7 linked regions of the Homo sapiens genome follow. The protein of the gene in region 1 interacts with the protein of each later gene in a biochemical or structural test. Each region holds a gene or a part of one and is shown in the gene's direction. Other genes may lie near its edges. The genes, in order: RGS12, TJP3, DGKK, APBA2, ITGB3, GRIP1 and PDLIM1.

Region 1 (3,500 bases):
CAGTCAGCTTCTGGAGGCTGGAGGAGAGCCGTTCACCCCCCTGGTCAGCTTCTGGGGGCTGGAGGAAAACTGCCCCCCTGGTCAGCTTCTGGGGGCTGGCCTCATTCCTTGGCTCCCGGCTCCTGCCCTGCCTCCATTGTCACATCGCTGTCTTTCTCCTCCTCTTTATTTTCTCCTTTTAGAGACAGGGTCTCACTTTGTTGCCCAGGTGGAGTGCGGTGGCACAATCATAGCTCACTACAGCCTTGAACTCCTGGCTCAAGCCATCCTCCTGCCTCAGCCTCTTGAGTAGCTGGGACCCCAGGCATGTGCCACCATGCCCAGCTAATTTTTTCTGTTTTTTTTTTTTGGTAGAGATGGGGTCTCACTATGTTGCCCAGGCTGATCTTGAACTCTTAGCCTCAAGTGATCCTCCTGCCTTAGCTTCTCAAAGGGTTGGGATTGCAGGCACGAGCCACCGCGCCTAGCTTCTGTCTTCTTCTGCCATGTTCAAATTTCCAGGATAATCTCCTTGTCCTGGGAGCCTTAGTTTACTCACATCTGCAGATCCGTATTGCCGTATGGCTTTCACAGTCCCAGGGATTAGGGCCTGGATATCTTTGGGGATCGCTATTCAGCCTACAGCAGGCTCCTCACTTGTCTTCGAAATGACTTCACTTTTCCCATTGTGTGCGAGGAGCACCCGTCTCATGCCTCTTCTCTGGGATGGGCAGGGTTTGTCCAGGGAAGGTCCCTGTGGTTTCACTTCCCTGCCCTTGGGGAGAGGCGGGAGCCATCCTGGAAACAGGTGTCCTGGGAAGGAAGACAAGCCTTGCTCAGGATGCAAGCCCCAGTCATGAGAGGTTGTGGGAGGTCACTCATGCTGTGCCTTTTTAGGAGGTGGGGTCGTTACCAGTTCCAAACTGGATACTCCACACAGTGCTCATGCAGTTTTACCTGTGGTTTTGGGGGCCACCGTTGCAGAAGTTGCCTAGATTCTTCCATGAAGGAGCCTCTTGCCTCGGGCTCCGGGCAAGGAACTCTTGTGTTAGAAGTTCCCTTCTTCTGTGTCTTTTAAGGTCTGGACTTCAGTGAAAGAGAAAAGAAACATCTAGTTTGTTCTTTCTGTTTTTCTTTTCTTTCTGCTTTTCCATGCACTTGCTGTCCCCAACTCTGTAATCATGGTGATACCCGATACGCATACACACTCTACTCACATATCTTTTCCTACATCTTTGTGTCCCTTAGCAGTGATCTTAGTTGTCCTTCCAGCATGCCTGAAAAAGGGCTGAGTCTGTGGATTGAAGCGTCCAGTTGTAGGCATTCTCCTGCCCTGCCTGGCCGCAGCCCCCAGAGGCGGGATCCTAAGTGGTCTGTTTTCTCAGGCATTTACTGCTGTTGAAGCTGCTCCTTTAAAGCTTAAGACATTCTTTTTTTATTTCTCCCAAAGGCCGTGGGGAGGTTTAGCTCTCCTCTGTCCCACCAGCCTCCCTGTCCCTCTATGTGCCATCATAATCACTGCATTTTTGGTGAAATCGACAGTCCTTGCTCTTGTGTGACTGTAAGCATTGCTCATTACTGCGCCAAGGAGTGCCCTGAGCACAGGTCCTCTCGCACAGCCCTGTGGATTAGCATCTTCTAGTCACCCACCTATCAAAATGGTTTGTTTTTCATTGCATCCAGGACACTAGCCCCATCCCCACCCCTTTGGGATTGGAGCCTTCTCCCTGCTCTCGTTTGCCCTGGTCTCCAGGAGACCTGCTGCGCCGCTGTCACCTGCATTTCCCGCTGCTGTCCTCCATCTGTGGGGCTCCCTGTGCACTGGGTCCTGCTCTTCTCTCTCTGCTTGGCTCACTCCTCGTTTTGCTGAAGTCCTACTCTTTTGATACCTAAGAAACATCACATAGGTATTTTTTTTGGTCCTTGATTTAGAAAACATCTTTATTTTACTCTCCAATTACCTTTTAACTTAGCTGGGTATAAAATTTTAGACAATGATTTTTTCGGAATTTTGAAAATGTTGCTTCATTGCATTTGGTTTCTGTGCTGTTGAGGTCTGACGCCATTCTGATTTCAGTTCTTCTGTGTGTGATCTCTCCTGCCTCAAGCTCATAGAAGCGGCTCTTTTCCCTCAGTGTTCTGAGAAGCCCGATAATGGCATCTGCTTCCGTTTATTGTGCTGGGCACTCCGTGGGCCCTTTCAGTCTGAGGATAGAAGTTTTTAAATTTCAAAGATAATTTTCTTTCAGTTTTGCTGTTTTCTCTTTCTGGAACTTTTATTTGGAGGTTGGACCTCCTAGGTTGATCCTCTAATTCTCTTTTTTCTCATCTTGTTGATCTCTTTGATGTTTGTTCAATTTTTTTTTTAAGAGACGGAGTCTCACTCTTTTGCCCAGGCTGGAGTGCAGTGGTGCAGTCATAGCTCGCTGCAGCCCCAAACTCCTGGGCTCAAGCGATCCCCCTGCCTCAACCTCCTGAGTAGCTGGGAACACAAGCATGCACCCCCACAACTGGCAATTTTTACTTTTCATTTTATTTTTTCATAGTCTCGTCATGTTGCCCCTTTGCTGTTTCTAAGAAGTCAGTCACTCTGGTAGCTGCGTTGCTCCTTTATGTTATATGATGAGGTGCTTTCAAGCTCCTCCTGGGATTTTTGGCTTCCAGCAGTTTGATTGTGATGTTCTTAGGAGGGTTTGCTTTGTATTTGTCCTGCTCAGGGTTTGTTGAACTTCTTGGATATGTAATTTTTCACCATCTTCAAACTGCTATTAAGTTTCGTGCATTTTAAAATTTCAGTTACAGTAGTTTTTATTTCTAGAATTTTCACTTATTTTTTATGGTTGCCATTTCTCTGCTCTGTCATTTGTTTATTGTGATCATACTGTCATTAAATCTTTGAACACATACTAGCGGCTTTAATGTTCTTTTCTGCTAATTTCAACACCTGCATTACCTCAGGATCAATTTCTATTGGCTTCTTCCAACTATGGGCCACATCTTCCTGTTTCTTTGAACATCTAGTGTTATTTGATGGTGTACTGGACATTGTAGATGGTAACTGTAGTGACTTCTTTTTTCTGAAGAGTGTTGATTTTTGTTCTGGAAGTTAATTTGTCTGGACTCAAATGAAAATCTCTGCTGCAGTCTCTGCTTGGTGCTGTTGACCTTCCGGCTGCCTCCTTCTGCTGGACTCTGGGGTCTCTCTGTGCATGGATGGCTCACCACTGGCCAGGACCTAGGCAGAATTTACTAACAGATCTCACGACTGCCTCTTCCCCAGTGACCTCCTTTCTGAGATATGCCCCTCACTGTTCAGCCACCCAGCCCTCCCCAAGCCCTATCTTGGACTCTTCAAGCTGGGAGGATCACAACTTCTACCTGTGCTCTAGCCATTTTTAGAAACACTTGTTTTAGTTGGTGCAGCTCTCTCCTTTCAGGGGACAACTCCCCTCCACTTTCTGCCTGCTTTTCATAGCTCTCCAGGACCTCCCAGAGTTGGTTTTTGTGTCTTGTGTCTGGTT
Region 2 (3,500 bases), on another chromosome or scaffold:
CTCTACTAAAATTACAAAAATTAGCGGGATGTGGTAGCGTGTTCCTGTAATCCCAGCTACTCGGGAGGCTGAGGCAGGAGACTTGCTTGAACCCGGGAGGCAGAGGTTGCGGTGAGCCAAGATTGCGCCACTGCACTCCAGCCTGGGTGACAGAGTGAGACTCTGTCTCAAAAAGAAAGTAAGTGAGGTGAGGAGAAACCTTTGTGAGCCTGGCACTTTCCAGCTCTGTCAACACAGGGCTCGGACTTGGCAGTAGGACAGTGTCAGAGACTTGGGCCTCACTTCCCTAAGGTACTTCCTGGTCCTTCACAGGAATTCTTGGGGTCATAGTGGCCCCAGAGCCCTTTTGGAACATAAAGTCCTGGAAACCATCGAGTGTTTGAGGGTTTGATGCTTCTTGGAATTATGTTGTTAAAATGGTTCTGGGCCCCAAGTGGCTGACAGGTGATATGGCTCAGCCCAGCCCAGAATTAGGGACCACCAGGTTCAGAGAGAAAGAGCTAGAAAGAAAATATGAAATACAGACAGGAAGAGAGGGAAAGAAAAGCAGAAAGTGGGGATTTGTGGTGTGGGGAGCGAGGAGTGAGAAGATGCCAGGTGTAGCTGTAGCTTCAAGGCCGGGTGCAGTGGCTCACACCTGCAATCCCAGCACTTTGGGAGGCCGAGGTGGGCGGATTACCTGAGGTCAGGAGTTCAAAACCAGCCTGGCCAACATGGTGAAACCCCATCTCTACTAACAAATACAAAAATTAGACGGGTGTGGTGGCGGGCACCTGTAGTCCCAGCTACTAGGGAGGCTGAGGCAGAAGGATCGTTTGAAACGAGGAGGTGGAGGTTGCAGTGAGTTGAGATCATGCTACTGCAATCCAGCCTGGGCAACAGAGTGAGACTCTGTCTCAAAAAAAAAAAAAAAAATGTAGCTTCCACTCTATGATTATAGTAGGTTCTACAATTGGCTCCATTTTACAGGTGAGAAAACGGAGGCCCAGAAGGATAAATGTCTTTGTGAACCTAGGGACACCAATGAATTAGAACCAGGCCTTGTAGATCTGGAGGTTCCAGGGGCACCCCCTCCCCAGGGAGGGCTTGTTACGAGGGTCTCCCCTGCAAAGCCTCCTCCGTAAGACCCGCCCTCCTCTCTCAGGACAGGCGACCACATCGTCATGGTGAACGGGGTTTCCATGGAGAATGCCACCTCCGCGTTTGCCATTCAGATACTCAAGACCTGCACCAAGATGGCCAACATCGTGAGTAGGCAGCCCCTGGCATGGCCAGCATCTCTGACCCCAGCCTGGGTCGTGCCGCTGTGGGGGTTGTAAGCTTCTGAGAGCAAGGAGTCATCTTCTCATCTTACAGTTTGGACATTGAGGCCCAGAGAGAGACTGGTGTCCCCCAGGGCCACCCGGGGGCTGAGCAGAGCCTCCCCCAGCCCTTGCCTGTAGCTGACCCTTCCTGTCCCCTCCTCTAACAGACAGTGAAACGTCCCCGGAGGATCCACCTGCCCGCCACCAAAGCCAGCCCCTCCAGCCCAGGGCGCCAGGACTCGGATGAAGACGATGGGCCCCAGCGGGTGGAGGAGGTGGACCAGGGCCGGGGCTATGACGGCGACTCATCCAGTGGCTCCGGCCGCTCCTGGGACGAGCGCTCCCGCCGGCCGAGGCCTGGTCGCCGGGGCCGGGCCGGCAGCCATGGGCGTAGGAGCCCAGGTGGTGGCTCTGAGGCCAACGGGCTGGCCCTGGTGTCCGGCTTTAAGCGGCTGCCACGGCAGGACGTGCAGATGAAGCCTGTGAAGTCAGTGCTGGTGAAGAGGAGAGACAGCGAAGGTCAGAAGAGGCGGGAGGTCGGACACGATCAGTACTGGACACAGGGCACCGTGGTCGGATGGGCGACGGTTTCAAGTGATTCTCCTGCCTCAGCCTCCCTGGTGGCTGGGACTCCAGGCGCCCGCCACCATGCCTGGCTAATTTTTGTACTTTTGGTAGAGATGGGGCTTCACCATGTTGGCAAGGATGGTTTCGAATTCTTGACCTCAGGTGATTCACCCACCTCGGCCTCCCATAGTGCTTGCTGGGATTGTGGGCGTGAGCCACCGCGCCCAGCCTGGAAGCTACAACTACACCTGGCATCTTCTTGCTCCTCGCTCCCCCCACCACAAATCCCCACTTTCTGCTTTTCTGTCCCTTTCTGCCTGTCTGTATTTCATATATTCTCTCTAGCTCTTTCTCTCTGAACCTGGTGGTCCCTAATTCTGGGCTAGGTTGAGCCATATCACCTGTCAGCCACTTGGGGCCCAGAACCATTTTATCAACATGTCCCCGCGCTGATCCCCGGGACCTCTGTTTAGGCCACCTCACTTAGCAAGAGGGACTCAGCAGATGGGATGGAGTGAAGGACCCTGAGCTCAGAGGTGATCCTGGATGATCTGGGGGGCCCAGTGTCACCACAGGGTCCTTATAAGAGGAGGCCTGGCTGAGTGTGGTGGCTGATGCCTGTAATCCCAGCACTTTGGGAGGCCAAGGCAGGCAGATCACTTGAGGCCAGTAGTTCTAGACCAGCCTGACCACTATGATGAAACCCCATCTCTACTAGAAATACAAAAATTAGCCAGGCGTGGTGGTGTGCACCTGTAATCCCAGCTACCTGGGAGGCTGAGGCACGAGAATTGCTTAAACCCGGGAGGTAGAGGTTGCAGTGACCTGAGATTTTGCCACTGCACTCCAGCCCCGGCGATAGGAGTGAGACTCCTTCTCGAAAAAAATTAAAAAATAAAAAATAAAAATTGAAACAATGATGATGTTATGAGCAATAGAATGCCCTTAGCCTGTGCATGGCAACATCACGAGTGGCACGGTGACCTGGTGTCCCCGCCCCGTGGAGATGTCATTGACACAATCAGATCTCGGGTCCTACGGGCGACATCACTGTTCTCCTTATGATGCCATCAAGGTGTTAGGATGGGAGGGCCCGCACCTGGACTGCTTACAGCAGGAGAATGCTCCCAGGCACCCGTCTCCAGAGTCCTGCCTCAGTTTCCCTCCTCCCCCCTTACAGAGTTTGGCGTCAAGCTGGGCAGTCAGATCTTCATCAAGCACATTACAGATTCGGGCCTGGCTGCCCGGCACCGTGGGCTGCAGGAAGGAGATCTCATTCTACAGGTGAGGCCGGGCTTCTTGTCCTGAGAGCAGGGAGACAAGGCAGGGTTGGGGCGGGCAGTCCCACGGAGTCATACAGCAAGGACAGCAGAACTGGGCCCCAAAGCATTTACCTTCAGTGTTGTTGCTTGTATCTCAAAGGTTGCAGATGGCCAGGCATAAAACCCCCTTTTTCCCCAGCTACTACTAATCCACAGCCAAATGTCGGTTTCTAGTATCCCCATGGGGTTGTCTGTTTCTAATACCCTCTAGCTTTGATGTGCATCAGAGACTCATGTGGGCAGCTGACTCCTGGACCTACCCTAGGTGACTGGATGCTAATGACCCAGTCACCAGGTTTAGGGGAGC
Region 3 (3,954 bases), on another chromosome or scaffold:
TGGCTTAACAGGTAGTCTTCTCAAATTTTAATTACAATTGGTAATATATTGGCGTCTAAAGTCTAGGTCTGACTAAGATGATGGTTTGTGTGTATGTGTACGTGACTATAACAGAAAGAGCTTCTAAAGTCTTCCGATGTGGTGGGAAAGGTGCTGCGCTAGGCATCAGTCGTTCTCTTCCCAAGAGAATCTCCCATCTCTAATGTCAGACTGCTTCAGGAGGTGAAAAGGGTGTGGGTGTTGCAGTGAATTTCCCCAGCCCAAGACACACACACACACACACACAGACACACACACACACGCGCGCGCGCGCGCGCGTTAACAAGTTTGGGGGGGGCGGAAAAACAAACTCCTGCTGATGGCTGGGAAATCCAGCTAAAAGCACAAGGCAGGCTCCTATAGCATAGGCGAGCCAGACAGACGCCCAGATAGCCTCAGCTCCCGAGCGCGAAGCCCAGCTGCTGCCGGGGCACTCTCGACTTGCTCTCGGGGAGGCTGCAGGCTGCGGAAAGCCGGGGCGCCAGCCTCCCTCATCACACTCCTTTCCCGAATCACCTCAAACTCTGTACCCAACGGCAAAGCTCAGAAATGCAAAAAACCGAAGAGGGTCAAATTGTACTTCAATCCAAAGGAGGCTGAACACCCGCCCCCCCCGCACCCCCCCCCCCCACCACACACACACCATGCCGCTTAATTTCTTTTCCCGGCTTAGATAAAAAGCATTACTTGCCCATCGAGGCTTGGAGATGGGGGGCAAGAGGTTGGTCCGAGGCTAAGCTCACCTGCTGCTGAGGTGAGAGAGCAGACACAGGATGGAAGCTATTCTGACCAGCAGCTAAGTGGTTGGGGGATTGCAAAGACCCTCAACTTCGCCTCTGGCTTTTTTTTTTCATTCGTGTCACTAAAGGGTTAAACACGGCAAGGCTCCAGCCCGCCCCCCAACCTCCACGCCGCTCCACTCCCCCTCCCCTTTTTGTCTCTCCCCTCCCCTCCCGCGCGTCGCTAGGAGGTCATCAAGCGCTCTGCCCAGTCCGCGTTCGCAAGCCCCTCTGCTTCCCGCCCATCGGACCCGTGGCTGCTTACGAAGAGGTGTGCGCACACTGAGGGGCGTGTTCCAGCATAGGGAGACGCTGAGCGCCCACGGGTTAGACCTCAGAGCCAAGCCAGCCATGGAGTGGGATGGGGGAAAGTTTGGCACCCTGCGAGGGGCTGCCGGACTGGAGTGGGCGGGGCGCCCGAGGGTACTTTAGCCTTCCAGGCTTAGGGACTCAGGCTGCCCAGACCTGAAGCGGTGTGCGGCCATGGACCGCGGAGCTGCCGCAGCCCAGGGCACTGCCCCGCCTCAGGATGGAGAGCAGCCCGCTGAGTCTCCAGAGCCTCCGCCGCCTTGGCCGCCGCCGCCACCACCACCGGCTCCGCCGCCGGCTCCGCCGCTGCTCTCCGAGGCTTCGCCAGAACCCATACCAGAGCCCTGTCCAGAGCTTGCTCCAGGTCCCTGTCCAGAGGCGACCTCAGAATCAGCCACAGAACTGTACACAGAACCGACCCCAGAACCAGCCACAGAGCCGGCCTCAGAACCGGCCCCAGAACCTGCCACAGAGCCGGCCCCAGAACCTGCCACAGAGCCGGCCCCAGAACCGGCCCCAGAACCTGCCACAGAGTCTGCCCCAGAGCCGACTCCAGAACCTGCCCTAGAGTCGGTCCCAGAGCCGGCCCCAGAGCTGACTCCAGAAGTTGCCCCAGAGCTGGCCCCAGAGCCGACCCCAGAACCTGTGACAGAGCTGGCCCCAGAGTTCTGCCCTGAGGCGGCTCCAGAGTTCCGTCCAAGTCCAGCACCATGTCTATTGCAATGTCCGGTGGACACTCGAGAGAGAGGTCTAAAGACCTCGCCATCGCCATCGCCATCGCCATCGCCCAGAACGCCAATGTCGTGGTCCAGAATAAAGGTAAGCAAAAGACCCCCTGAAGCGGGGAAAAGAAGCAAGGCGAAGTCAGATGGCTATGGAGCCCGCGGGACTCCGGGTACCCCTTGCATCCCGCTTGTCTGGCACTGGCTGGCCAAGATGCTGAGAAAGATGCAGGGATGGGGAACCCGGGGGAATGGGAAGGGGTTGGGAGGCGGGAAGCAACATGTGGGAATCGAGAATGGGCTGTTTGGGGCTAGAAACGGGGGTGACAGCAGGGGGTGGGAATCGGAGCAGTTTTCCCCTTGAAGAGAAGCGACAGTGCGGTGAGCGCCAATATCTTGAAAGAGAGGAGGAAGATACCCTCGGGGAGCGCAAGAGACCTGGAGAAGTGTTTGGGGCTGGCCCCGAATACATAGCGGACGGATTGAGTGGGGGCGGTGGGACACACCTCTTAGCCGCGGTCACTGCCGCAGAGGCCCAAGCTGCGGAGCCTTCGCCTGCTTGGCCCCCTCCCTGCCACTGGGGAGGGGGCGCCTCAGCTGGGCGCAACTGGCGGCCCTCCAGGGAGGTGCCCGGCGCCTCTGCCGGCTGCTTCGAGCTGGTACTCCTGGTGAGGACGAGGGGATGGGCGGCGCCCACGCGCACTGCAGGGGAAGGGCAGGGTTCTCCGGGAGGAGGGGGAGAGCATGCGTGTGTCGAAGCCACCATTCCATCTGTCTGCAGGATTTCCCAGCAGGTAGGTGCAAACGCAGTGATACAATGTTGCGCAGCGTCACAAACGGGGCAACTGGCATCCCGCACCAGGGCCAATTGGAATGGTACAGGAGTCCTGGTTTAGAGACACGAAAATAGGAGTTGGGATTGCAGAACGTGTGAAGGGGAACCTTCATCTCTACCAGTCTACCGCGACGCCTTCTAAATCGTTACACTTAGCCGGGAAAAGATGAGTGGAGAATCTTCTGGCACTCGCCCAAGGGGAGTAGGGAGGAAAAAGGTTTTCGTGTTTACCTTGGACCCTGAAACCCCGTCTGCTCTTAAGCGGGAGTATGCCTGTCTTTCCTGCTTTCTCTGCACTCTCCCTACTCTTCCTTTACCCTAAACTTCGTTCCACAAAACTGAAAACCAGGATAATGCACACACACACCTCAATTTAGCTTCCCCTGCAGGAAGACATACACACGCGCGCGCATTCACACACACACACACACACACACAAACGAATAACACAACACACGAACAATACCGGTCCATCCTGCTGCCTAGCAGACCATAAGGACACGGCTCAGGAACCCTTCTGCTGTGGACCGCACACTTATAGAATGTAGAATGCGGGAGGGGAGGGGGCAGATTGGCATCACGAAATGGAAGCATTGGTTGCTTCCTGAGTTCTTAGTAGGGAGGCTTGAGTTTGCAAAATATCTGCAATGACGAATAACTGAAAAAGAAGGCTAAAATGAAAAGTTTCACAGAGAAAAGAAAGTGCAGAGGTTTAAAAATAAATAAAACATGACGGTGGGAGACTCTGATAAGTTTTTAAAAATTCAACACCCTAGCTCTCACCAGGGGATGTATCCCTCCCCTTCCTGAAAATACCCTTTCCTGCAGTGATCTTAAGAAGGGCAAAGTTGGGGTGGCTAGATTTGGGAGCTCACCCTCACCGGGTGATTGATCTTGTCTTTTTGGAAGAGTTTGCATTAAGCTGGTGGGAAAGAGACAAGCAGGAATCACCTGACCTGTGGCCATCTTAAGCGAAATTTTGGGAACATGGCTGTGAAACTGACACGTGGGGACGTAATACCCAGAGAATGCATCTCCCCTTTGGCCTCTGAAAGGCTGACTGGCGACCAGGACCCTTCCCCCAGTGAAAAGCATCCCCTGCTCCCATGCGAAAGCATCTCCTACCTGTTTGACAGGAAAATGTCATTGCCAGACAGATGAGGAAGATTAAGGTAAGGGGAATCAGATTAGTTTCCTCTACGTAGTGCCCACTCAGACGTGCTGGCTAGCTGACCCACAGACATCTGGCAACACTGGCAGGAGACCAGGA
Region 4 (2,921 bases), on another chromosome or scaffold:
GGGCAGATGCACGGCGGCTGCACCCCGTGGGGAGGCCAGCATGCCTGCGGCAGCTGACCCTGGCAGTGCGAGGGCCCCCCATCCGGAGGCCGCAGCCTAGCACAGTCCCGGGCAGGACAGGGGAGAGCGTCGTGCTCAGGAGAGGAGAAGTGGGCAGTAGAGCTCCCTTTCCGTTCTTGAAGCAGACGTTTAGAGTCTGCTCCTTCCCAGTGTCCGCAAAGAAGGATTACAAGGCGCGCCACCCACACGGTTGGTCTCCCTGGGGCGGTCTGAGGCCTTGCTTGTATACCCAGCTCCTTTGGAGTCAGGGCTCGAGGCCAGGCCCCAAAGGGTCATTTGCTCACCGATCCCCAAAGGCTAAGAACTTGAGGTGCCCTGGGCCCCAGCGAGCCTGTTCCCAGCCCCCAGCACACTTTCCTGGCCCGTGTGTGTTTTGTAAGAAGGGGTGTAGGCCGGGCGCGGTGGCTCAGGCCTGTAATCCCAGCACTTTGGGAGGCCGAGGCGGGCGTATCACGAGGTCGGGAGATTGAGACCATCCTGGCTAACACGGTGAAACCCCGTCTCTGCTAAAAAATACAAAAAAATTCGCTGGGTGTGGTGGCGGGCACCTGTAATCCCAGCTACTGAGGAGGCTGAGGCAGGAGAATGACATGAACCCGGGGGGCAGAGCTTGCAGTGAGCCGAGATTGCACCACTGCACTCCAGCCTGGGCGACAGAGCAAGACTCCGTCTCAAAAAAAAAAAAAAAAGAAGGGGTGCGTGTGTCTTCCCCCATTGAGCTCCTCCTCAGTGAAGCAGAGTGCATCCCTCGCAGTTTCTGCCGAGGCCTGGCCACCCCCAGCCAGCCCCAGTGGATGGGCAAACTGTTGTCACCACTAGAAGTCCAATTTCTCACCCCTCGGGTGTCAGCTGGACTGGAAGCAAAACTAGCACTCAACTGTATTGACTCCTCTGGAGCCAGGGGTGGGGACCTGGAGTCTCAGTCTGCTGCATCTGGAAGGCATCATAAGTGTCCCCAGGCCTGGGCAGGCTGGCCTTCCTCCTTCACTCTAGGAGATGGGCATTTGAAGCAGAACTCTGGGGGGTTTGCCTCTGTCCTTTGCTTTCACCTGATTGTGGGAGGGGAGGTGGGAGGGCAGCGGCTCAGCCTCCTGTTTCTGTCCGCAGATCCACATGAAGACCATGCCCGCCGCCATGTTCAGGCTCCTCACGGGTCAGGAGACCCCGCTGTACATCTAGGCCACCCCAGCCTGGCCACGCAGCCAGGACACCGGGCAGGGCCGCCCGGGCCCAGAGGAGCTGGGAGCCGGGCCGCAGACTTGACCCCGACGCCACAGCCCAGCCACGGACGCTGGCTCCCCAAAGGGTGTGCCCTCACCACCCACTTGATTTTTTTCATTTTGCCAAAAAGGGGTATGTCTTTATCAAAGGAGAGTCACAGAACAAATGTTTGTTTGTAAAGCGTTCCAAGTATTTTGCCACGTTCTGGACTGTCTTCTCCCTGCACAAGCCAGGGTGTGTCTCGGTAGCTGTGCGTGGTGTGGAGTGTGTGTCTTTCCTCCCTGAAGCTGTGCGGAGCGAACTGGCGCCTCCGAGGGACGCGGCTCCCGGGGCAGGGCAGCCGTCACCCCTGCCTCCCGCCCCCTTGGCTGGGACGTCTGGGGTCCTGTGGGGCCCCCACAATGGTCCCAAACAGCTGCCTCTGCCACTGACTGCAGGGACACGGGCAGCCTGGCTCCCAGGACACGACTTGTAATGAAAGTTTGGGGACATGTGATTGATTGATTGATTGTAAATAAAGGATGATGGCCACAACATGAAAACTCCATATTTATTTAGATGCTATTATTACTGTTTGGACTTTTATTTTGGCAGGCTTTTTTCCAGACTCTAGGGTTTTCCAATGTGACTAATGACCACACCTGCCTCTCCCGTCGTCTCTTCTGGGCACCCTCCCACCCGGCTGCATACCCGGGCAGGGCTCCCACAGAGACAAGGAGGGCACAGGTGTCTGCCCCCTCTTTAAAATCGATCTACACACATCCACGCACATGCGACCCCGAGGAAACGAAACCCACTCTAGAAAACGCGACCTTGGCCGCACCTAAAGCAGCCAGCCGTGAGTGCAGACCCCTTGGCCAGCGTGGCGCAGTGGCCCTGAGCAGTAGTGGCATGTGTGTAGATCAAGTCGGATCTAGTCCAGCTCGGTTCATTAGCGATCCATGTAATCTGACGTCATCTTGTCTCGAAGTCTCTTTTTTTGGCCCAGGCCTTGAAGAATACACTGTGACTTAAGAAGCCTTACCACGCAGTAACTAAAGCTTTAGGATGACTGTATTCGAGGAGTGCCGTGTGTTGCATGCAGCTACCCGTAGGAAGACTTCGCGCATATCACTAATAAACCTGAAGTCGTGATGAAAAGCCGTGTGTGTGACTGGTCTGTTACCTCAGCGGCGGGTGCCCGCCTGTCCTTTCATTCACAGCTTGGATGCGGCTCTGCAAATTCACTATGCGGTGGCAGCCACAGCTGCTCTGTGCTCCTCCTGGATCCTGAACCTTGGAAGCTGTCACTAATGAGTTCGGTGGGTGGGTGCTCTGGGCACCAGGTGTCAGCTGGGCAACGCCCCGCTGCAACTGGAGGTGCCAGCAATGCTACCAGGTCACGGGGTCAGCGCCAGGTTCTTGACCCACTTGCCCCAGCAGGGAGACACGTCCGCAGAGCACTCACTAATGGAATGAGGGAGCCAGGGAGCCTTGGGCTTCTTCAGATTTCAACGTAAATGGCCCCTGGGAAAGGTGTGCATGCGTGTGCGTGTGTAAAAGCCGGACCGCCCATCCCAGCACCCTGTCTGCACCTGTGGGTCCTTTGCAGCCTGTCTAGAGTGACAATTCTGGCAGCTCTGCCAGCACTTACCTTTCTT
Region 5 (3,500 bases), on another chromosome or scaffold:
ATAGGCATAAACCACCATGCCTGGCCATGGTTAGTGCTTGGCCAGATTAGATGAAAACAAATTAATAATTATTTGAGCAAAAGCTTTCCTCTGTGTTCTGAATTGCACCTGATACATTTCTGTCCCTTGTCCACATCTCCTATCACTGTCACAGGGAATGGAAAATAGGAGAAGGGCAAAAGAGACGGGGACACAGGGGTGAAATAGGAGAGGTTCTATCCCCGAATGCTGTGGAATCACTGAAGAGTGATAGGCTGAATATAGCTCCTTAGAAATAGTGGCAGGGAACAGGTGTGGTGGCTCATGCCTGTAATTCCAGCACTTTGGGAGGCTGAGGCAGGTGGATCGCTTGAGCTCAGGAGTTTGAGACCAGCCTGGGCAACATGAAGAAACCCCATCTCTACAAAAAAATGCAAAAATTAGCCAGACATGGTGGTGTGTGCCTGTAGTCCCAGCTACTTGGGAGGCTGAGGTGGGAGGATGTCTTGAGTCAGGGGAGGTGGAGGTTTCAGTAAGCCGAGATTGTGCCACTGCACTCCAGCCTGGGCAACAAAATGAGACCCTGTCTGAAAAAAAAAAAAAAAAAAAGAAACGGTGGCAGGATGGCATTCTACCTCATCTCCTCCTGTTATTTCCTATCAATTCCCATGCCAAGAACTAAAGTGTGAGCAAAATGAACATTATTCTGTTTCATTGATGATGTATTCCAGAGAACGGTGCCTTGGGAAAACTTCTGAGATGAATTTTAAACATTCAGGGTAGGGAAGGACTTAAGGAAGTCACTGTAAGATGCTATTCTGTTTCCTCCACAGGCCAACAACCCACTGTATAAAGAGGCCACGTCTACCTTCACCAATATCACGTACCGGGGCACTTAATGATAAGCAGTCATCCTCAGATCATTATCAGCCTGTGCCACGATTGCAGGAGTCCCTGCCATCATGTTTACAGAGGACAGTATTTGTGGGGAGGGATTTGGGGCTCAGAGTGGGGTAGGTTGGGAGAATGTCAGTATGTGGAAGTGTGGGTCTGTGTGTGTGTATGTGGGGGTCTGTGTGTTTATGTGTGTGTGTTGTGTGTGGGAGTGTGTAATTTAAAATTGTGATGTGTCCTGATAAGCTGAGCTCCTTAGCCTTTGTCCCAGAATGCCTCCTGCAGGGATTCTTCCTGCTTAGCTTGAGGGTGACTATGGAGCTGAGCAGGTGTTCTTCATTACCTCAGTGAGAAGCCAGCTTTCCTCATCAGGCCATTGTCCCTGAAGAGAAGGGCAGGGCTGAGGCCTCTCATTCCAGAGGAAGGGACACCAAGCCTTGGCTCTACCCTGAGTTCATAAATTTATGGTTCTCAGGCCTGACTCTCAGCAGCTATGGTAGGAACTGCTGGGCTTGGCAGCCCGGGTCATCTGTACCTCTGCCTCCTTTCCCCTCCCTCAGGCCGAAGGAGGAGTCAGGGAGAGCTGAACTATTAGAGCTGCCTGTGCCTTTTGCCATCCCCTCAACCCAGCTATGGTTCTCTCGCAAGGGAAGTCCTTGCAAGCTAATTCTTTGACCTGTTGGGAGTGAGGATGTCTGGGCCACTCAGGGGTCATTCATGGCCTGGGGGATGTACCAGCATCTCCCAGTTCATAATCACAACCCTTCAGATTTGCCTTATTGGCAGCTCTACTCTGGAGGTTTGTTTAGAAGAAGTGTGTCACCCTTAGGCCAGCACCATCTCTTTACCTCCTAATTCCACACCCTCACTGCTGTAGACATTTGCTATGAGCTGGGGATGTCTCTCATGACCAAATGCTTTTCCTCAAAGGGAGAGAGTGCTATTGTAGAGCCAGAGGTCTGGCCCTATGCTTCCGGCCTCCTGTCCCTCATCCATAGCACCTCCACATACCTGGCCCTGTGCCTTGGTGTGCTGTATCCATCCATGGGGCTGATTGTATTTACCTTCTACCTCTTGGCTGCCTTGTGAAGGAATTATTCCCATGAGTTGGCTGGGAATAAGTGCCAGGATGGAATGATGGGTCAGTTGTATCAGCACGTGTGGCCTGTTCTTCTATGGGTTGGACAACCTCATTTTAACTCAGTCTTTAATCTGAGAGGCCACAGTGCAATTTTATTTTATTTTTCTCATGATGAGGTTTTCTTAACTTAAAAGAACATGTATATAAACATGCTTGCATTATATTTGTAAATTTATGTGATGGCAAAGAAGGAGAGCATAGGAAACCACACAGACTTGGGCAGGGTACAGACACTCCCACTTGGCATCATTCACAGCAAGTCACTGGCCAGTGGCTGGATCTGTGAGGGGCTCTCTCATGATAGAAGGCTATGGGGATAGATGTGTGGACACATTGGACCTTTCCTGAGGAAGAGGGACTGTTCTTTTGTCCCAGAAAAGCAGTGGCTCCATTGGTGTTGACATACATCCAACATTAAAAGCCACCCCCAAATGCCCAAGAAAAAAAGAAAGACTTATCAACATTTGTTCCATGAGCAGAAAACTGGAGCTCTGGCCTCAGTGTTACAGCTAAATAATCTTTAATTAAGGCAAGTCACTTTCTTCTTCTTAAAGCTGTTTTCTAGTTTGAGAAATGATGGGATTTTAGCAGCCAGTCTTGAAGGTCTCTTTCAGTATCAACATTCTAAGATGCTGGGACTTACTGTGTCATCAAATGTGCGGTTAAGATTCTCTGGGATATTGATACTGTTTGTGTTTTTAGTTGGGAGATCTGAGAGACCTGGCTTTGGCAAGAGCAGATGTCATTCCATATCACCTTTCTCAATGAAAGTCTCATTCTATCCTCTCTCCAAACCCGTTTTCCAACATTTGTTAATAGTTACGTCTCTCCTGATGTAGCACTTAAGCTTCATTTAGTTATTATTTCTTTCTTCACTTTGCACACATTTGCATCCACATATTAGGGAAGAGGAATCCATAAGTAGCTGAAATATCTATTCTGTATTATTGTGTTAACATTGAGAATAAGCCTTGGAATTAGATATGGGGCAATGACTGAGCCCTGTCTCACCCATGGATTACTCCTTACTGTAGGGAATGGCAGTATGGTAGAGGGATAAATAGGGGGCGGGGAGGGATAGTCATGGATCCAAGAAGTCCTTAGAAATAGTGGCAGGGAACAGGTGTGGAAGCTCATGCCTGTAATTATAACCTTCAGCTACTAAGACAGGTGTGGTGGCTCACGCCTGTGATTATAATCTTCAGTTACTAAGACAGAGTCCATGAGAGTGTTAATGGGACATTTTCTTTAGATAAGATGTTTTATATGAAGAAACTGTATCAAAGGGGGAAGAAAATGTATTTAACAGGTGAATCAAATCAGGAATCTTGTCTGAGCTACTGGAATGAAGTTCACAGGTCTTGAAGACCAATATTATTTGTCAATATGTGGGGATAACCTGTAGCTGCATTCATGAGGTAGCAAATAGCAGTTTTGGCCTGTGGGGTGAACAGCTAAACAGTGTTCTGGCATCAGATAACACGGC
Region 6 (3,500 bases), on another chromosome or scaffold:
TTGTTTACTCTAATTCATCTTCCAAAGTCTTTTTTCTAAGCCACACATAATTTGCTTGAAACCCTAACATCGAGGAAAAAATTTTCAGGCTAGTGCTATTTGATATTTTTTTCTTAAAAAAGTCTTTGGTGCAAATTGAATGTGCAGACAAGGAAAATAATTTGACTTCCTGGTATACATTTTGAATTTCCAGCCTAGATGAAGGCCAATGAAGGCAAATAGTAAAGCTCTCACTTAAAAATAAATAAGTAAAGTGGATTTTAATAGCAGAACCTTCAAATATTTGGCAGGAATCAGAGGGAACCAGTTATATGAAGCCTTGGTTTACAATATATTATGTCTTTTGCCAGTGGAGTTTTTTTCTTAGGATAGAGAACAACCTGTCTGAGCAAACATCTTGTCTGGGAGAATCAGAATATTTAACTCCATTTATTCAATAGAAAGTGTCAGCTGAAGGTATCTGTATTTTGACTCCCTTGAAATTCACAGATACATTTGCTGGGTGTTTATACCATCTACCTAGGCACCTTTAGGCAAAACCTGGTATGAGAAAGGGGTCTTTGAGCCCCAAATCAAATGAAGTCAAGTTTTCCAGTAGGATATTTGTTCCGACTCCCTCTCCTGCCCTATTCCTTAAAGCAAACACCATTCCTTTGTACTCCTTGAAATTAGAGGCCTCACTAGTATTGTCAGGGTGGCCTGAAGGAGGATAATGCATTTCTGTATATTTAGACACAGTGCAGTTTTCTCTGAAATTGAAATTTTGCTTATGAGGGGGTCATTTGTATTGTGTCTCCCACCTTTTAAAATGCACTACACTTCTCCACAGTCTGGGGCGGGGGGAAAGAGGGACCAGATAATTTTCATACTAAATCAGTCAGCTGGATGCAACCTTTTTAATTAAATGGAGCTTAGACAGCCCTGAAGCTAATGAAAATCTCTAGTACAACATTACCCTTATCAGATTTTAATTTTACACATTGGAGTAGAGAAATGATGCAGCATAGGCAGGTTATGAAAAGAAAATCAGCATCACAGTATTGGAATAGCAATGCAAACAGCTGTAGGAAGGTGCCGTTCACAAGGATGCACACCATTCCTATCAGGAGGCCCCGTGGGCCCTTCCTGCACTCTGGCAGAGAGGAGAGATTTCTGAAGCTGTTTAAGTTTCTTTAAATTAATCGGCAGTCATCATTGGATTTGGAGCACAGTAGCCATAAGAATGTACACTGTGTAGTGCTCTCTCAGCATGGGGTTTTGCTTGCTAAATTCTGGTATCAGCGAATCGGAAATGCATACCAGACCCTTTTAAAATGTTAGCATCTTTAGTAATCTCTTTTATTTTTCTTTAATTGGCCCTATATACAATTCATAAATAATTCAAGTGTTTTCAACTCATGGAATATTAAATTTTTTAACCTGCCAAGGCAATTTGAGTTTAATTTATACACTAAAATATATGGACTAAGCACAAATTTTTTGCCTTTATTGTGGAAAACCTGATGTCGTTTGTGTTGCAGGGATAGGAAACTGATAGGAAGTTTAAGTAATTCTAGCTTCCACTTCTGACTCCATCGTCTACGTTTACTGAAAGTTGTTCACTGTCTTTCTTATCAAGCAGGTGTTTCCGTTATATTGCACATTAAAATCAGACTTGGATTTCCAAGAGGAAATAAATTTTGGCTCCTAAACATAATTAAATCATAGTAAAGAAGAAAAACAAACAAAAAATTATTATTGTGTTTACAATTCTCAAATTTTTGACTAGTGGAGTTTTACATAGTTTTACCCTTTCTCCACAAGAAAGTTCTGATTGTTTTTTCAAGATCTCTGATGCCTGAACAGTGTGTCTCTCAACACACTTCCCAAATTTCCAGATTGTGTTAGCAGTAAAGCATATACCACAGAGTTTTCAGGCCAGTGTGGAAATGAATATCTCAACTTGGGATAAGAGATTAGCTATGCCTTTCACTGATAAATAGCAGCATTAAAGAAGCTGACAGAAATGAGTTTTCAGTGAGGTTAGAAATTTTTCCCACTGAGGGTTTTCAGGAGACATAATTGGATTGAAGGAAACTGACGTTTTGGAAAGGAAAATGTGACCAGAGTCACTAGACTCGACACATTCAGTACCAGGAGGACCTTCCATTTGAGAGCTCCAGGGCAACCTGGAACCACTGTGGTCTGCTCTCTCGAACATCCTGAACAGAGTAAGAGGCTGCAATTAGAGAAAGAAGAAAGAAAAGTAACTTCTGTGGCCATATATCTCTTGAGACTGCAGTAGTGACGTCACCATGGAATGATACAAGAACCATAATATTTTAAATGTGTTGTTTTCTTATCCATAACAAGGGACTTAGACATACCCATAGGAAGAGGCGGTATGTCTGGTGGTTGAAGCGGGGACTTTAGGATCACGTGTCCAGAGCTTCACCTCTGACTCCACCACGTGGGGTCTTAAGCAAGTTACCCAACTTTTCTATACCTCAGTTGCTTCATCTGTAAAATGGGGGTCATAATAATACTTGCCTCAAAGGAATATTGTGAACATTGTCTGAGCTAATCCATGAAAAAGCACCTAGCACAGTGCCTAGTATATAATAAGTAATCAGTGAAAGTAGGCTACAATTATTGGCTTTATTAAATGAGAGAATGTCTATAAGTGCTCTTTGCAAAATGACAGGACATGCCAAAAATGTAACATCTTATTATTAAACTTTGGAAATACTTGCCTATCAAGTACACCACTGTAAAACAGAAAACATTTGGAGTGTACATTCAAAATAGGCAGCAGCTCTCTTCTCTGGCCTACATTATTTGTTCAACACCTTTTGCATTCATCATCCATGGCATACAGTTTTGTGCATTATCTTATATCATTTTTGTCTCTTAATTATTTTATATGTATGAAGATTTAATCCCCAGTAGTAATTCAAAGTCAAGGTAAATGGTATGACCTTTAACCTGCCTGTAGCAATTGGCACAGTCTGAGAAAGCAATAGCTGGTAAATAATATCTTCCTTATTGACTTATTAATTGTGCTGTACAGTCCTAACAAATGCCCAGTAATTTTCAAAGCTCTCAATGAAGAAGCGGGTCAAAAGGTGGGTGTAGAATCCCGAAGTGCATTCACCGTACCCTGGCTTCATTTGAAACACAGATGGTACTTTGTGAAAAGTACGCTAAAGTGTCGGTGGTTGTAAATTGGCCAAACACAGTAATAACTGCGTCTTGCTGAAATGTCTTCTTGTACACCCAAAGTAGAATGAGGATGGTGAGAGAGAATCCATTAGGGACATCTCCTGCAATAAATACTCTTTTGTCTCAAGGAAAATGCTGCTGCAGTGTTCACATGGACACTCTGGCTGATATTCCCGTTCATTCATGCATTTGTTTATTCATTCATTCATGTATTAGTCATTATATACCAGGCACTGTTCTAGTTGCTAGGATATATTTAGTGAGCAAGACAGGCAAAGTATATCCCTACTCTTATAGAA
Region 7 (3,500 bases), on another chromosome or scaffold:
TTACCACCTAAATTAGGTATCCCAAATACCATAGCTTAATTTTGCCTGTTTCTGAACAGACTCATACAGAACACGTGTGTGTGTGTGTGAACAGCTTCTTTAGCTCCTTAATGTTTTCATCTAGTATCGTTATCAACTTAAAATTTCAACCCAGGTTTCCAACTTTAAGTGGACATAGGCTAGCTTCTTTTACCCACATTCTCGTTTAGTGCTCTTGCCTTGTGTTCCCTGATGATCCAGCCACACATTTGCCACTGTTCTCTGATATTTTTTTCTGTCAGTTCCTGCTTCAAATCAACACTTGCCCATTTCCTTGAGGTATTTTTTTAATTAAAAAAATTTTCCATGTTAATTTCTCCTTCCCTCTAGTTACTTTCAAGGGAAGCCTTCAGAGAAATACCCAGGCCAACATTGCAACTCAGTTTATGTTGACTGTTTTTCTCTCCCAGCAACTGATAAAAGACAGGAAAGGGTGAGGCCAAGATCAAGGGATGCCCTTAGTTGGAGGAGTTGCTCATTTGTCTCTGGAGTCCTGGGGAACCCTTTGCTAAGAGCTGAGCGGTTCTGTGGCAAATGCTTATGCTTTTTCTCAAGTATCCCAAGGGATGCTTAATAATGGTTACTGTGGCCAGAGGGTCATTTCTGATTTTTAAGAGTGGTATTTCCGGATTCAGATAGATTTTACATCATGTCGTAAAGATTGAAAGAGAAGGGTTTGTCTGTCAGATTATGAAAAGCAGGAAATGTCCAAAAAGGGTCATTATGTTTTAATGGCCATTGTGCTGCATGCCCTTGGTCTGTGAAATTGATACCTGGGAAATATTAGCGACTTCAGCTGCTCACAGCTGACTTAAGGAGAGAGGGGGAAGAGGACAAACCAAAGAGAATGACATGTAAGTGAATGCCTGAGCCCATACTACATTATCACCCTCTGACCAGATAGTCTCCCCTCCCTAAACTCCTGATGCCAACCTTGCTGGTTTGTTTGAGGAGGCAAGAGGGAAGAACAGTGGCTTTAGGGTATTGCAGCCAGGTAGATGACTGAGAGGAGAGTGTCATCTAAGCGTCTGGGTCATATTCTCCTAGGCTGACCAGGACTGGGAAAAGCACCAAGGAATTGCTGTGTACTGGGATCAGGATAGGACTGGCACATTCTTAGGCCATGCCTTAACTCTTGCTCCACAGAGGAGAGGAAAGCTAGCATTCTTTGCCTTTTGCAAACAGAAAAGCTCAGGTGCTCACAGGTTAGGTAATTTGGTTGAATTTACATAATTTCTCACTGGCTGACTTACTACTCAACTTCCTTGTAAAGGATAGGATAGAGACTGGAGCAAAAGTGGTTGTGTCAGAAAACTAACTTTTAAAGGATTATTTCGCTTCCAGTAGGTCTCAGAGGAAAGCCTGGGGGAAGCTTCCAGGACTTTAATTGAGGGCCTGGTACAATGTCCAGGGCAGGGACTCAAGCTGAGCTCTAGTCCGGAGCACCTTGGTGGGTGATCCTGGGAAAATCATATGTCTTCTCCTGGGTTCAGTTCCCTGTAAAGATAAAATAAAATAATATTCCCTGTAAAGATAAAATAAAATAATAAGCAAGCAAACCCAGAGGTTTTCATACCCTTTGAATATGAGAGCTACTTTTTTTTTTTTGAGACAGGGTGTCGCTCTGTTGCCCAGGCTAGAGTTCAGTGGCATGATCTCGGCTCACTGCAACCTCCACCCCCTGGGTTCAAGCGATTCTTGTGCCTCAGCCTCCTGAGTAGCTGGGATCACAGGCATGAGCCACCACATGTGGCTAATTTTTGTATTTTTAGTAGAGATGGGGTTTCGCCATGTTGGCCAGGCTTGTCTCAAACTCCTGGCCTCAAGTGACCTGCCCACCTTAGCCTCCCAAAGTGCTGGGATTACAGGCATGAGCCAAGAGCCCACTTTTTTATTGTTAGAGTGTCCTAGTCTCTCATGGCATTAGTTGTACCTTCAATCATAAGTTGATTTAGAAAACACTGTGATTTCAGGAATGTTTCAGATGTATTTGTCTTCTGTTAATCACAGCAGCATCCATTTACATTTGAAAGATTTGTGTGAGAAATATTTATTTGATCTGCTTGCAGTAATAACCATAGTTAAAACATATATAGGACTTTTAATATGCCAGGCACCATTCTAAGACCATAATATATTCAGTGATCTTCACACGTATTTTGTGAGGTAGGATTAAGATCCCCATTTTACAGATGAGGGAACTGAGGCTTGGAGACCTTAAGTACACTGCCTGCATCATATAGCAGTGAGTGGTAGAGCTGGAGTTTGGCTGGGGAGTCCGGCTTCCAAGCCTGTAGTCTTAATCTCTATGTCATAGTAATATATTAATAACAGCTAACATTTTTTGAGTGCCTGCTCTGTGCTAAGCATGCACTTACATTATCTTCTTCTGTATTCCCCACAACCCATGACAGAGGGACACAGAACACAAAGTCAGACAATTGCAGAGCTGGGAAGTGAAGCCAGGCAGACTCACTTCCAGGCCAGCTTTAACCACTATATTCTGCCTCCTAATAAGCCATAACTGTCAATATTTCATTGCTAACAGTGTTAACCCAGCACACAGCTCTGAAAAGTGCTAAGGGTGGTGCAGGCTTCAACATGAGGGATAAGACACTCCTGGGCTCCACACCCTGGAGCCTCTCATTCTCCTGAGGTTGGTTGGGGTGGCTCTCCAGTTGCCTTGTGGCCTCAGCTCAGAGCACCTCAGAAAGCAGCACCTCCCTTCCCTGTCCCTCCTGAAAAACTGAAAGTCATGGCCCCACCTGGGAGAATTTACAGTCCAGTTATGAGGTTCCATGCCCACTTGGACAGTGAAGAACAAGAGCAGAGGAGTGGAAGGACTGGCTAGAGAAAGACCTGCTTGTGGGGGATAGGAGGGCATTTGGGAATGGTTCTTGTGGTAGATGAAGATGACCAGGCAGTGAACAGTTCCACCTTGCGGTAGCCAAGCTAAGTCCAAAACCGAATATACCCATGAAACCTAAGACAAAAAAGGTAATTCCTGTATGGCTGTTAGCACCCTGTGTGATTATTGATACTCTTGTTAGCCACATCCTGGGCAAATTGGGCTGCTCATCCGTGGCTGAGTTCTGTGGTGCACTTTCCCATGTGTAATACACTGTCTCCTTGGTAAATGCCATAAATACTAAAAATGATTTTGTGAAGAACACAGCGGTCTTGTAGGAGGCCAGATTCCTTACTGAACACTCAGGGACTAATTTTTATAGACACGACCATTCGTATCAAGTAAGACAATAAGAACATAGATAGGACCTAGTTTAGATAAAGATATTGAAAATGCATACAGAGGCTGGGCTTGGTGGCTTATGTCTGTAATCCCAGCACTTTGGGAGGCCAAGGTGGGTGAATCACCTGAGGTCAGGAGTTTGAGGCCAGCCTGGCCAACATGGTGAAACCCTGTCTCTACTAAAAATTCAAAAATTAGCCAGGCGTAGTGG

What was found.
Region 2: the proteins of RGS12 (region 1) and TJP3 interact in a test that uses a peptide from one of them, tested with the Homo sapiens proteins (one large-scale study listed by IntAct).
Region 3: the proteins of RGS12 (region 1) and DGKK interact in a test that uses a peptide from one of them, tested with the Homo sapiens proteins (one large-scale study listed by IntAct).
Region 4: the proteins of RGS12 (region 1) and APBA2 interact in a test that uses a peptide from one of them, tested with the Homo sapiens proteins (one large-scale study listed by IntAct).
Region 5: the proteins of RGS12 (region 1) and ITGB3 form a complex in vitro, tested with the Homo sapiens proteins (one study listed by IntAct).
Region 6: the proteins of RGS12 (region 1) and GRIP1 interact in a test that uses a peptide from one of them, tested with the Homo sapiens proteins (one large-scale study listed by IntAct).
Region 7: the proteins of RGS12 (region 1) and PDLIM1 interact in a test that uses a peptide from one of them, tested with the Homo sapiens proteins (one large-scale study listed by IntAct).

Annotation. Positions count from the first base shown.
Region 1 is NC_000004.12:3,296,021-3,299,520, forward strand, and holds part of RGS12 (regulator of G-protein signaling 12), read left to right. Parts: intron 1-3,500. UniProt on the Homo sapiens protein: Regulates G protein-coupled receptor signaling cascades. Inhibits signal transduction by increasing the GTPase activity of G protein alpha subunits, thereby driving them into their inactive GDP-bound form.
Region 2 is NC_000019.10:3,728,884-3,732,383, forward strand, and holds part of TJP3 (tight junction protein ZO-3), read left to right. Parts: intron 1-1,144; coding exon 1,145-1,247; intron 1,248-1,471; coding exon 1,472-1,823; intron 1,824-3,051; coding exon 3,052-3,155; intron 3,156-3,500. UniProt on the Homo sapiens protein: TJP1, TJP2, and TJP3 are closely related scaffolding proteins that link tight junction (TJ) transmembrane proteins such as claudins, junctional adhesion molecules, and occludin to the actin cytoskeleton.
Region 3 is NC_000023.11:50,468,026-50,471,979, reverse strand, and holds the start of DGKK (diacylglycerol kinase kappa), read left to right. Parts: upstream 1-1,154; 5' UTR 1,155-1,301; coding exon 1,302-1,946; intron 1,947-3,954. UniProt on the Homo sapiens protein: Diacylglycerol kinase that converts diacylglycerol/DAG into phosphatidic acid/phosphatidate/PA and regulates the respective levels of these two bioactive lipids.
Region 4 is NC_000015.10:29,115,895-29,118,815, forward strand, and holds the end of APBA2 (amyloid-beta A4 precursor protein-binding family A member 2), read left to right. Parts: intron 1-1,167; coding exon 1,168-1,239; 3' UTR 1,240-2,421; downstream 2,422-2,921. UniProt on the Homo sapiens protein: Putative function in synaptic vesicle exocytosis by binding to STXBP1, an essential component of the synaptic vesicle exocytotic machinery. May modulate processing of the amyloid-beta precursor protein (APP) and hence formation of APP-beta.
Region 5 is NC_000017.11:47,309,327-47,312,826, forward strand, and holds part of ITGB3 (integrin beta-3 precursor), read left to right. Parts: intron 1-812; coding exon 813-878; 3' UTR 879-3,500. UniProt on the Homo sapiens protein: Integrin alpha-V/beta-3 (ITGAV:ITGB3) is a receptor for cytotactin, fibronectin, laminin, matrix metalloproteinase-2, osteopontin, osteomodulin, prothrombin, thrombospondin, vitronectin and von Willebrand factor.
Region 6 is NC_000012.12:66,459,077-66,462,576, reverse strand, and holds part of GRIP1 (glutamate receptor-interacting protein 1), read left to right. Parts: intron 1-3,500. UniProt on the Homo sapiens protein: May play a role as a localized scaffold for the assembly of a multiprotein signaling complex and as mediator of the trafficking of its binding partners at specific subcellular location in neurons.
Region 7 is NC_000010.11:95,284,504-95,288,003, reverse strand, and holds part of PDLIM1 (PDZ and LIM domain protein 1), read left to right. Parts: intron 1-3,500. UniProt on the Homo sapiens protein: Cytoskeletal protein that may act as an adapter that brings other proteins (like kinases) to the cytoskeleton. Involved in assembly, disassembly and directioning of stress fibers in fibroblasts.